Regions from separate parts of the Homo sapiens genome. Here regions 1 and 2 are each linked to region 3. Evidence: fine-mapped expression QTL. A gene starts in region 3. Each other region holds a variant in brackets. All regions are shown on one strand. Distances are from middle to middle.

Region 1 (4,241 bases), 650 kb after region 3:
TGAAAGAACCACTGGCCAGAATTACCCATGGTTTGTGTTCTAGGAATATGCCATCTATGAAGCTTTAGCATGACCCAAAGGTCAAAGGTCCAGGGGTACAGACAGCCATTGAGAACTCAAAGGCTTCTCATGTAAAAAGCTCTGGTTTATGGAGTGAGAGGATGGCCCAGCCATTTGGCCCATGCTTTCCTCAGCACTCTACTCTCTTAGCCACCACACCACCTATGTGCCTTTACCCTGAGACGAAAGGAAAAAGGTCAGTCAAGCCCTTAGTTTTGTTGGGGATAGGATAGAGTAGCCAGCTAGAGTGAGGTTTAGAAATATACAGTGGCCTTCAGTTATTCATGTTCTGTTGGAATTGCTAGTTAAGAACACTTTTCCTGCTTTACCTTTCAAATATTATCTCAAAGGTCCTATCAGGATTTAGTAGGTTCATGAGGTAATGAGTGGATCCTAGACATTCTATAAGGGCTTATTGACCAGCAGAGCTGTTCCCTGTCCCAGACACCTACAGCAGGTACATACCTGCTGAGAGAAGAGAATGAATTAGGTGGAGCAGGTATAAGGGGTAGGGAGATTGACCCCTCCAAAACTGGGTCTTGACCAGTTTCCAAAGGTGACTGAAGTTGGGAGGGCTATAGGTGCCAGAATGCCAGCTTCCTGATGAGTAGGTGAGTGTGGGCCTGACAGTGGAGATATTCTGGACTCTCTCATTACTCTGGGTAGTGGTTAAGATGCATTGCCATCCTGCTTCCTGCAGGTTCTCCTTCCACCATTGTTTCCTCAAACATGTTGCCCTCTTTCTTTCCTTCTCTGTTTAGGATGAAGGATACTAGCCGCAAGAACAACATGTTTGCACAGTTTCGGAAAAATGAGCGAGACAAGCAGAAACTCATTGACACCGTGGCCAAGCAGCTCCGAGGACTCATCAGCAGCCACCACTCATGAAGGGTGACCCCGGACCCACAGAGGCGACCTGCTGCAGCCTCTGTGTCAGTCTGGGGTCCAGCCCCAGCTGACCCTGCATTTGTGCATTCTTCTTCAAAGAGAGCATATGTATTTTTTTATTAACCCCTGTGCAGTATTCACATAACATTTCCCTATAGTAAAAGAGGCACAAGAATAAGCAAGTACATGAGATGTTGCTAGGCTGGGACTCAGGGGAAGTTATTACTACACTATCTGTGTTATCTTAGAGATGGTGGTATCATCAATTCCACAGTGATGAACCACCTTTCATCCATGGCTCTAAAGCTTAGGTCTGGGGCTTAGGAACCATAAAAAGTGGGTATCTGGCGCTGGGAGGTAGAGTGAGTAAGCAAAAGGATACTAAAATATGTCCTGTTCACTCTTGGATGCCCATTCACCACATAGATGAGGCTGATTCTTCTCAATACAAGGAAAGGGCATGGCAAACATTACTATTTAGTACACTAAGGGCAGCTCTGGAGGGTCATCTCCTCAGTCTGCTGACTTTCACTGGCTTGTGAACAAGCATGGCATATGGCAAGATGACAGCTTCATTCCAATCCCCCAAGAATGGCGGTTTCTTTAGCCTGATCTAACCCCAGGCTTTTATTGCAATTTTTTCTAGGGCAGGATACAGCTAAGTAGACAGCAGTAATAATTGGATCCCATGTTTAACTGCATATTGCCCCAGCTCTAGGAGTGTTGAGTCTCAACTCGAAGAGTTTTTCTGGATCTTGAAAGCCAGTTTTCATGGAATCAGAGACCCAATCCCTTCCCTGTTCATCTCATTTCCTTCACTTACAGTCAGAGCACTTGGTTCAGGACATAAATCAACAGTTACTTCCATAGGCCTTCACAGGGCGTTTCAGACTTAGCCTCCTCCAGTAATGCCATTGAAATAGTTCAGATTTCGGAAGCCTAAAAATGGCCTTTACCTTACCCTTAGGTGTAACCTGAGGATTAGTTGGGATTGTTCCTTTATGTTTTAAAACCAGCTTTTTGGTTATCATCTTTAAGGAAATGTCACCAGCTCTGCACTGTGGGGGCAGCCATGCCTGGACTGGATGCCTCTAGGGATGGAGACATTGTTACCATAAAGTCGACAGAGCCAACCATGGCTTGTGGCTTGTTGCCTCTGGCCCAACTGTCCTTCACTAAATAATATCCTAGATATTATTTTGTTGCTCAAGCCCAAGGTTCCCACCCTCTTTTGAGATCCCCAAAGCCATCTTTGGCCTTGTCTAAGAAAGATTGCCTATAATCCTGTCCTCCAAACTCTAAAGCCTGGAGCAGCTTAGCGTGGAGGCTGCACTCATTGACCCAGATGGACTCCTGAGACTTAACGCAAGGGCTTTGCTATGAGGTCAGTCGGGGGAAACTGTACTTTAAGACACTTCAGAAAGATGCTACTGGCTAGTAGCAGAAAGATGGCTA[G/C]TGGCAAGAGTATAATTGTGCATCACCAAACAATGACAAATAAGCCACACAGGCATTTCCAGCTTGGATTGATGGGAGGAGAGACTCATCAAACAGAATTCTTCACTACCTTTGTCAGCTACTGAGTTGCTTCTGGGGAGGGAAGTACTTCCTTGCCCCTCCCCAACCCCCCTACCTCACCATATCCTATCATATCTTGATAGTCATGGGGAAGAGGATGTGCACACAGACATACAAATTTCCTCAAAGCTGGAGAGACCAGGCTACATGTGAGCTCATAGATGCTGCTGAGGCTCATCCTGAGGGCTGGATGGTTGGCCAGGGTTTCAGAATGAGGGTAAGGGATGAGCACTGCCACCCAGAACTTGATAAGCCAAGAGAAGGCAGGAGCCAAAATGGCATCGCCAAGCTCTCATCTTTGTTGAAACAAGTGAGAAACGATTATATTAATCTGAAGTTCTATTGCTTGAGAAGAGTTCAAAACACTTCTCTTTGCTAGTACCCAGTTTGCAGCAAGATCTCTTCAGCTTTAAGTGCTGAGAGACTTTGAAGTGGAAATGGAGAGATGTGTAAGCATGGCACAGTGTTTGTCTTTTTAGAGGATCATCATTGCTGGTCTGGTCTCAAACCTCTGCCTTGGAAGAACTGTGCTATACAGGAAAAAGTGAACAAGGTGGAGGAATAGGGGTTATTCTGCACAGAAGTCCCATGAAAGGAAAAGCTTATTCAAGCTCAAGACATAAAGATGGACCCTTTGATATATCTTCTCTCCATTCTTAGTCTGCCTTCACCTTATCTAACAAAAAACAACATGCAGCTACTGAGTTGTATGTAGAGACATACTCTTGGTGGGCCAGGGAAGGTAAAAACAGGGACCAGCAATGTCAAGTTTTTGAACTAGAAAAGTGGGATGTTTTTAGTTTTGTCTATAACCTGTAGCTGGGCCAACCCTTGAGAGGACTTGTGCAAAGCATGTGTGCCCAGACCCATCAGACTCCTCAGATATGGCCTCAAATACCTAGAGATGTAGAAGTACCGTGGAGGGCCTCAATAAGAGGGCAAGCACACAGATGGCTAGAAGCCTGTATGGCTTCTGGTCAGGATGAACCCTTGGCCAAGTTCTTGAGGAAACCAGGTCTATATTCCTGAAGGGACAGTTCAGTTTGGGACTCTATTAGGTTTCAGTAGTAATATAGGCTGCTTGCATCATTTTAACATTCATAGGGAAAATCTCTTTGAGCAGGCTATAAATGAAGCTGTTGCAGGTAGGGAAGAACAGGACCTGAAAATGGGAACCAGGAAGTGAGATCCTGTTGGCAAAGGGAATGTAGAGCTTCCAGGGTGCATTGCCCACTGTTCTCATTGCATACCAGTCCTCCAAGTCAGTCTAGCCTTACTGTACACTTGACAAGTGCTTACTCAGCAAGTCCCAGACCCACGGCCTTTTATCTCCCAAGACTGGCTTTGGCCATGACCTTCCTCATCAGGCCTCTGAGCACACTCTCTAGGAACTGCTGCAGAAATTCCCCTACCTTAGCCTCCCTTCTCCCAGGACTCCTCTCTTGACTGCAATTGCCTCTTCTTCTTCTTCTTCTTCTTCCTTTTTGTTTTTTTTTTTTTTGCCTGCATTCACAATTACTTTTCACAAAGGTGTTGGAAATGGCATTTTTATTTTACACAGATAGTTGCACATATATAGAGAAAATTAGGAAAGTCCATTTTTAACTCTAAAGGGAACTTTTTTCTCTAAAACTTACTTGTAAAGCTACTGATACAGATGGGCCGCATGGTTAGGGGAAAGCTCCTCTGTGAAAAGAGCATGTTTATTCCTCTTGTAC
Region 2 (4,241 bases), 71 kb after region 3:
ATAGTTTTACATCTGTTTCTTCACCTCACCTTCCTTCTTACTCTCCTCTTCCTCTTCCTTTTACTCATCTTCCTTTTCCTTTCCCTCATCCTTTTTCCTTCATTTTATTATACTTTATATAACTGTGGCAACCTGGGAAAGGTAAATGCTTCTATGTACTGGCAATGTGAAAAAGGTTGCTTCATGTGCAAAATGATGATAATAACTATTCTGCTAGGATTATATTTGGGGAATAAGTGAGTTAGTGAATATAAAATGTTTAACAGGATTTGGCACGTATTTTAAAAATGCTTACTTTTACTACTATTTTATAATTTTGGGCTGAATTTAACCTTTAATGGTATGGATGATAGTGCAGTAATAAAATAGCATAGATTAAATTACTGGGTGGTCAAATAATTGGTCTCTGTTTTTGTTTGCTTTTCATATGAGTTGGTACTATAAGTAACTTTTTTCTGCTAATGTTCTTGAGCCATCACTCCAAACTCAGAAATATATATCACAACTTTTTTCAGAACCATGATTAGGTTATAAATCGACTTAGCTGTCCCACATGTTGTGTGGCTGGATTTCCCTACAGACATCTATGATAATCATTTAATAGAATGCTTAATCCAGGCCAAAATAAAGTAATGAAAAATTTTGAAATACCAGGACATTTAGCATTGTCCTTTGTTCAGCTCCCTATGACTCTGCATTACAGTGTCTAGGTTTGGCATGGGACTGATGTTTATCATTATGATACAGAGTTCTTGGCTACTTTTATGTTTTACCAAATATAAATCTTTAACAGACTCCACCTGACAACCCCCGCCCCAACACAGTTAAAAACGTCCCCCTTAAAAAAAGATTTTGCCAACAAAATGTTTCTCTCCTTTGAGAGTTAACTTTGTAATTTGGAGCATATAACCATGATGTTTGAGAGCTGTCTGTTTCCATTGTTGCAGCCTGATTGTCCATGGTTTAATCATCAGTAGTTAAGAAGTAAAGCCAAAAATGGCTCCAGGCTGCTCAGTACCATAAAAAATTTCCACCTGGAAGCAATTTTTTCTAAAAGCCCGTAGGGACTGCTGTCACCCTCCCCCTTCTGTTGGCAACAAGGGCCAGAAACATCAGTTCTCTTCAGAGCCAGGTCTTGTTGCAGTTTAATCATCTTCCTTCTCCTAGCTTCCAGAGGAGGTTAGAGGAGAGCTAGGGAAATAACAAATTATTGCCAGACACTACTCTCCTCCTACAATAGATTTCCTTTAGCCATCTAAATTTCTCCTTTCTTCCTCTGTTTCTTTCTTTTTCTGTTTAACATTTTAGCTGAAGTGCAAATTATTTGCACTGCTAGAACTTGAATTAACTTTTTGGTAAAAATATTTATTATTGAACTCTAGTGCTTCTCTTTGGGGTAAGATGAAATGTTGAAACATTTTTGGGCACTGCTTTGGCTCTTTGTCACTTTATAATGCTTTCTCTGTGGGATACAGCCATTGTTCCAGGTGTAAACTCTCAAGGAACTCATGGTCTTATAGGGGAGATAGACATGTAAATAAATCATTACTGTATAGAGTGTTCACCGTAGTACCCTTTCAAAAATATGAACAAATAAACATTTCAAAGCAAAAGGACATGAACTGTGCTTTCCACCAGTAAATATCATTAGTAGTGGTGCCCATTCATTTCTAGGCCCATTATCCTAATGTAACTTCTGGATAATACTAGGCATTTGTTCAAGAACTTTGAGGCAAAACAAGATGACAGTACTCCTGGTGAAATTCACCTCAAACCACATATGGCTTCATAGGTTCAAGGCCAGTTCAAATTTATACAGTGTCAAAGTGAGAGCCAGTTGGTGAATGATTATACCATGACTGTTAAGGAGTAATTCTTATCCTATATCCTTATCATACACTCCTTATCAAGGATAGGGCTAGGTGCTTCAATAGATTTTGTTTCATTAAAAAAAATAGATTTTTAAATATATTCCTTATCGAACTAGACTATGAGCAGGCACTGTGGCTCACACTTGTAATCTCACCAGTTTGGGGGGCCAAGGTGGGAGGATCGCTTGAGCCCAGAAGTTTGAGACCAGCCTGGGCAACATAGTGAGACCCCATCTCTGCAAAAAAAAATTTTAAAAAATTAGCTGCTTGTGTTGGTGCATGCCTGTAATCCCAGCTACTTAGGAGGCGGAGGCTAGAGGGTCCCTTAAGCCCAGAAGCTAGAGGCTGTAAGTGAGCCATGATTGTGCCACTGTGCTCCAGCCTGGGCAACAGAGTGAGATACTGTCTCTAAAAAAAAAAAAAGAAAAAAAAAAGCTATTAAAAAAATGAAATACATAGAACTAGACTAATACATGCTGCAAGAGACTGTTATTGTAGATTAAATTTGGCTGGGTGTGGTGGCTCACACCCTATAACGCCAGCACTTTGGGAGGCTGAGGTGGTAGGATTGCTCGAGGCTAGGAGTTTGACAGTACCCTGGGCAATGTAGCAAGACCTCATCT[C/T]TACCAAAAAGAAAAAAAAAGAAATTGGTGTCATTTGGGAAAAGATGCCTCATATCAGCAAGTAGGAGAAAAATGGTATTGAATTTGAATCTTTAAAGAATGGACTCATGATCTTGTTTGGTATAAATTCCTCCAGAGTATGCAAGCTTAAGCTCTTCGTGGCTGCTTTGGTTTTATGAACCAAAGCAGTTTCTTGTGTTCTACCTTGTTGGTAAGAAGAGCAGCTTCTGAGCTGGGCATGGTGACTCTCACCTGTAATCCCAGTATTTTGGGAGGCCGAGGTGGGAGGATTGCTTGAGCCCAGGAGTTTGAGACCATCCCAGGCAACATAGTGAGACCTTGTCTCTACAAAAAAATGAGCTAGGCATGGTGGTGCCTGCCTGTAGTCCCAGCTACTCAGGAGGCTGAGGCAGGAGGATCGATTGAGCCTGGGACACAGAGTGAGACCCTGTCTCAAAACAAAAACAAAAACAAATCCTAAAAACTAAAAAGGTAAGGAGCTTCTGTATCAGGTTATAGTAGTTGTATTAAGGAGAGACGTTTTAGGAAAGAGTTGAGTTTTGAGCTGAACCTTGAAAGATGAGTAGGAATTTGCCAGAGAAGTGATGGTAAGGACATTGCAGGCAGAGGGAATACATGCTACACTCAAGGAACTTCAAGTAGAGTTGTAGAGTGAATGTGGGGAGTATTCAGAGATAATGCTGGACATGGAGGGCATCTTACATACTATGCTAGGGACTTTGGACTTGATCCTGAAACAAGATCCTGAAGTTGTGTGTATGTGTGTGTATTTCTGTCTTTCAATTTCCAAGTACAAGGTCTCATTTAAAAAATTACTGTCAAAGAAGTATTGAAGATGGATTGTTACGAATATAAGGGGAAAGTGATAAAAACAGTGTTCAGAAGAGAGATGATAAGGACATGAGTCAAGGCAGTAGCTGGGGAGAATAGGGAGGGGAAAGAGCATAGAAGAGCCATTATTTAATTAGAAGCGGTAGGTCTTGGTGACTAGTTATGAGGAGGTGTGAGGTGAAGTGAGGTGTCAAGGTTAATGTACATATTTCTAGTTTAGGTAACTCAGTGGCTGGTGTTATCTTCAATTGAGATGGTGAATACTAGGAGTGAAATGTGGGTTTGGGTAGAAAGTTAAATTCTTTTTTTTTTTTTTTAATTCAAGAGACATGCCCCTTGCCATATTATCTGGGCTGGGTTTGAACTCCTGGGTTCAAGAGATCCTCCCATTTCAGCCTCCTGAGTGGCTGGGACTATAGGTACATGCCACCATGCCCAGCCGAGTAGTTTTTGACATGCACGGTTTGCGATGTCTTTGAGTCAGGTTTATAGGACTTGACAGAGATATATCCTGGTATTATTGGTTTGGTAACCAGACTTGTTTAATACTAACAACTGAGGTATTGATGAGATCTCTGAGGGTATATATATATGTGAAGAGTGAGAAGAAGTGGTCAAGGAGGTATTCAGGGGTAGAGGGAAGAAGAAGAATTATTGAAGGAGACTGAGAATGGGGAGAACCAAGAAGGAGTGTAATAGAAGCCGTGGGAATAGAGATTTTAAAAAGAGGGGATAGTTCATGGTGGCACATACAAAAGTGGAGTCAAGTAAATGATGAAATTAAAAGTGAATATTTGATTTGACAATTAATAGTCTTTTATTGACTTTAGCAAGAATATGTTCATTGTGAGTGGTTATAGGTAAGAAACAGATTACACTGGTTTGAAGAGCGAGT
Region 3 (4,241 bases):
TGCATTTTTCCACTCAACAACTACAACTTGGAGACAGTTTCATGTATGACCATAGAGTCTTTTGTCTTTCTTTTTAATGATTGCATAATAGTCTATAGTATGGTTGTAGCACAAATTATTTAGCCTAAACTTCCAGTTTGGTTCTTCTCTCATGCCTTTTTTTTTTTGTCAGTGGAAACTCTCTTCTACTAGTCACTCTGGTACTAAACCTTGGAGTAATATCTAACCTTTTTGGTATCTAGTAAATCCTGTCAATTCTCTCTTTTTGATGTTTTTCCTACTTGTTCATTCTTTTTCATTCTCATTGCTGCTTCCCTGGTTTAGGCCTTCTCATCTCCTACAGTGTTGCCTTATCTCCAAATTCTCTGTCTCTGCACATCTTGCACACTTGCCCTTCACCAAATTTCCTAACGCCCACATTTTGATTGTGTCACTCCTCTTAAAAACCTGCACCTCTAATCCCAGCACTTTGGGAGGCCGAGGCGGGCGGATCATGAGGTCAGGAGATCGAGACCATTCTGGCTAACACAGTGAAACCCCGTCTCTACTAAAAATACGAAACATTAGCTGGGCGTGGTAGTCCCAGGGCGTGGGCCCGTAGTCCCAGCTACTTGGGAGGCTGAAGTAGGAGAATGGCGTGAACCCGGGAGGTGGAGCTCACGGTGAACTGAGATCCCGCCACTGCACTCCAGCCTGGGCGACAGAGCGAGACTCAGTCTAAAAAAAAAAAAAAAAAAAATTAGCCGGGCGTGGCGGCGGGCGCCTGTAGTCTCAGCTACTCAGGAGGCTGAGGCAGGAGACTGGCATGCACCCGGGAGGCGGAGCTTGCAGTGAGCCGAGATCGCCCCACTGCACTCCAGCCTGGGCGACAGAGCAAGACACTGTCTCAAAAACAAACAAACAAACAAACCCCCAAAAAACCTTCAGTGCCTTCCCATTCATTGTGTTACGTAAAAACTCAAGCAATGATTAATAAATCCGATTTTTAAATTGTAACTGATGAGTTCATGAAATGCAGATGCCTGGATCAGAATCTCCAGATGTATGACTGTCAGTCAGTCTGTATTAAAAAAAAATGTTTCCAGGTGCTTCTGTTGCAGTTGGTTGTTGGATCAGTGGAACCATTAGAACAAAGTACACATTTATCAGCCCAGTATTTAAGGCTCCTCGTAATTTCTCTCCAGCGAACCTTTCCAGACCCATCCCTTACTACTACGTCTTTACACGTCAGTGCAAATGAAATTCTTTTTGGCTGTCTGGATTCTCCTCACACCTTCCAGTTATGCCTTTTAACCTCCGAAACCCAGTGTCTTTATGAAGCCTTGGCAACCAGAAGAGATCTCTGAACTCCATTATCGGAACTGGCTTACAGCTCACAGTTTTGAATTCTCCAGCTCCCCGTGTCTCCCCCACTAGACTGTAAGGCCTCTGTCAGACATTAAGTTAGACTTTATTATTCGCGCCGACGGAGCCTTGGCACTTTGTGGCAAAGGTGGTAAACAAGAATTTGTAGGTTTAGTGCCACTGCCTGACTTGATCATCACTGTTTACGCACTGTCGTTAACTGTTTTTGCTTACAGTGGGCTTCAACTAGTATTTGCGGATTCCATGTATGAATGAATGGAATCCAACCTAGCATTTCCCAGAGAACTACAAATCCCAGCGGACATTACGCAGAACGCCGACGGACGCGGTGACGCAAGGGGGCGTGTCGAGCCTGAGGGAGGGGTCGGCCTGCGGGTAGCCAGAGGCTGGGGCGGCTGTGGAGCCTGTGGTGGGAGCGGCATTGTGGGGCAGGGAAAAGGTGAGCCGAGCCGACGGAGGGGACGCGCTGCGGGGCGCCCCCAGTCTATGGAGCGGGGTAAGATGGCGGAGGCGGAGAGCCTGGAGACAGCGGCAGAGCACGAGCGGATCCTGCGAGAGATCGAGAGCACTGACACGGCCTGCATCGGGCCCACGCTCAGGTACCCCGGGTGCCGGGACCACAGAGGGGCGGGAACGGGCGGGACGGGGCAGGCTCCTCTGGGTCGGGCCTCCGGCCGGCTGTCCCCAGGTCCGGCGCCGGCCCCTCCCTTCGGAGAGACCCTGCATACCGGGCGAGGCGGGTCTCCCTTCGCAGCCCCGACGCGGGGTCCCTTCCCGGCGCCCTACAGCCCAGTGACTCAGGACCCTCCCGCTGCCTCCCTCGGGGCAGGAGCAGCCTTCGTTCTCCCTCCGAGGCTGGTCCGGCGCTGGGGAACGAGAGGGCGCCCGACAGATGGTGGTGGCTCCCGGCAGATCTTCCCCCTGGGGACATCACCCTTCTCCCTCCGTCTCTAACTACGTCCTGCCCTAGACAGGAGTCCTGCTCTTCAGACAACACAGAATTTCACTCCATGGTCTAGTGCTCGAAATCAAAGTCTTGCCTCAGAATCACAGCCACTTCTCAGAAACGAGTCCCTGGAAATCCTAGGCCTGGATGGAAGTTTCCCCAACCCGCGCCCCTCTCCTGGGAGCCGCTGCTCCTTTATCCCTGCCTCCCTGTTACGAGGACGACCCTCGCCCACGGTGCAGCCTCCTCATCGCTGGGGAAAACTGACCCTGCTGCCGCCCCCCAGTTATCATTTTTTTTTGCACGCACATCTCCATTTTATTTGGAGATGTCAAAAGAAATCCCTACTTACCTCAACTTATTTAACAAATTTAGGTAGCACTTGTTACATAAAGTCCAAGACGTTGTATAAAGTGATTTACAAATGCAACTTATTTAAGCTACAAAACAACCGTATTAGGTAGGTTCTATTACTCTCCTTTTACAGACAGGGCACAGATAGGTTAAGTGACTTGCCCAAGGTCACAGAGAAAATAAAGTGGGGGACTCAGATTCCTACTCGGATAGCCTGGACCCAGACACTTAACCACTGTTTTGCCTCAGCTGGGGATTATCGGCTACCTGTACTTACTGTTGGTAACTACTCACTAAGCCCAGTTTTGAACTACTTTCCCCCTTCCCCTCATGTTACTGGTGTCCTAGAACCAACTCATCCTTATCCCTTACTGTTATGCATTCTGATCATGCAGCCAATACATAGATAACTATCCTACCCTCCTTGCACAGTCTTGGGTCACTGCCCCTCCCATCAGAAAAGTTATTACTCACTGCTTGCGTTTTCTTGGGGTAAGTTGACTCAGGAAAGACTAATTGGAGGGCAGGCTGGAAATTACTCCTCCTCTCCACTTGCACAGCTTCCTTCTCCAGGACACATTGTTAGCACATTTCTGCCAGTACCACCCCTGGTCATAACTATCCTTAGTAGTTTGCCTTTTGTCTCTTTATTTATTAAAAGCAATGGCAAAAACCGCAATTACTTTTGCACCAACCTAATATTCATTTATTGAGAGAGGGTCCCCTTTTGTCTCCTAGGCTGCAGTGCAGTGATGTGATCGTAGCTCACTGCAGCCTTGACTTCCTGAGTTAAGATCCTCCCACCTAAGCCTCCTGAGTAGCTGGGACTACAGCTGTGCACCACCACCACACCTGGCTAAGTTTTAAACTTTTTGTAGAGATGGGATTTTGCCATGTTGCCCAGGCTGGTCTCAAACTTTTGGGGTCAAATGATCCTCCCACCCCAGCCTCCCAAAGTGTTGGGATTACAGGCATGAGCCACCGTGCCTGGCCCCTTTGTCCCTTAAAGTGACTTTTAGCTCCCTTTTTTGGACCAGTTCTTCCACACAGTTGCCTGTCTCTCCACCAACCCCCATTGCCTTATGATCAGGACCATTGTGCTTTTCTCAATTCCCATTTTCTTCAGCTCTTAAGGGTCAATGGTCCTACACACATTTTCCTGTATACTTCAAATCATCTCTAGATTACTTATAATACCAAATATAATGTAAATACCATGTAAATATATGTTATACTGTATTGTTTAGGTAATAATGACAAGACAAATGTCTGTAGCATGTTTAGTGCGGATGCAACCATCCTTCTTTTTTTTTTTTGGGACAGGGTCTCACTCTGTTGCTCAGGCTAGAGTGCAGTGGCACAATCGTCACTGCTCACTGCAGCCTCGACTTCCTGGTGATTCTCCCACCTCAGCCTCCTGAGTAGTTGGGACTACAGGCGTTCGCCACCATACCTGGCTAATTTCTTATATTTCATATAGAGATGGGGTTTCACCATGTTGCCCAAGCTGGTCTTGAATTCCTGGGTTCAAGCAATCCACCTGCTTTAGCCTCCCAAAGTGCTGGGATTACAGGCT

Which allele goes with the higher level. Positions count from the first base shown, and alleles are read on the strand shown. Sizes are in standard deviations (SD) of each study's normalised expression.
In carriers of allele G in region 1, the expression in cerebellar hemisphere of the gene that starts at base 1,729 in region 3 tends to be higher than with C alone (small effect, 0.37 SD a copy in GTEx).
With allele T in place of C in region 2, the expression in left ventricle of the gene that starts at base 1,729 in region 3 is higher (moderate effect, 0.72 SD a copy in GTEx).

Evidence for each region. PIP is the estimated chance that this variant, and not a neighbour inherited with it, causes the effect. A credible set is the group of variants that fine-mapping cannot tell apart.
Region 1: its variant is the best candidate, but not a certain one, in a credible set for the expression of EXOC6B in cerebellar hemisphere (GTEx, PIP 0.69).
Region 2: its variant is the best candidate, but not a certain one, in a credible set for the expression of EXOC6B in left ventricle (GTEx, PIP 0.74).

What each region holds. Positions count from the first base shown.
Region 1 is chr2:72,176,042-72,180,282 of GRCh38, reverse strand. EXOC6B (exocyst complex component 6B) reads left to right here. Exons shown (of 22, transcript NM_015189.3): 22 at 822-4,241. The coding sequence ends at 948. Among named protein-coding and RNA genes, the nearest start is that of CYP26B1, 30 kb to the right of the region's middle. The variant G/C (reference allele first, on the strand shown) is at 2,404.
Region 2 is chr2:72,752,670-72,756,910 of GRCh38, reverse strand. The region is part of intron 1 of EXOC6B (exocyst complex component 6B); the gene reads left to right. Among named protein-coding and RNA genes, the nearest start is that of EXOC6B, 71 kb to the left of the region's middle. The variant C/T (reference allele first, on the strand shown) is at 2,495.
Region 3 is chr2:72,823,521-72,827,761 of GRCh38, reverse strand. It overlaps EXOC6B (exocyst complex component 6B), which reads left to right and starts at 1,729. Exons shown (of 22, transcript NM_015189.3): 1 at 1,729-1,964. The coding sequence starts at 1,852. RefSeq lists a silencer at 1,968-2,137 and enhancers at 2,328-2,377, 2,224-2,734.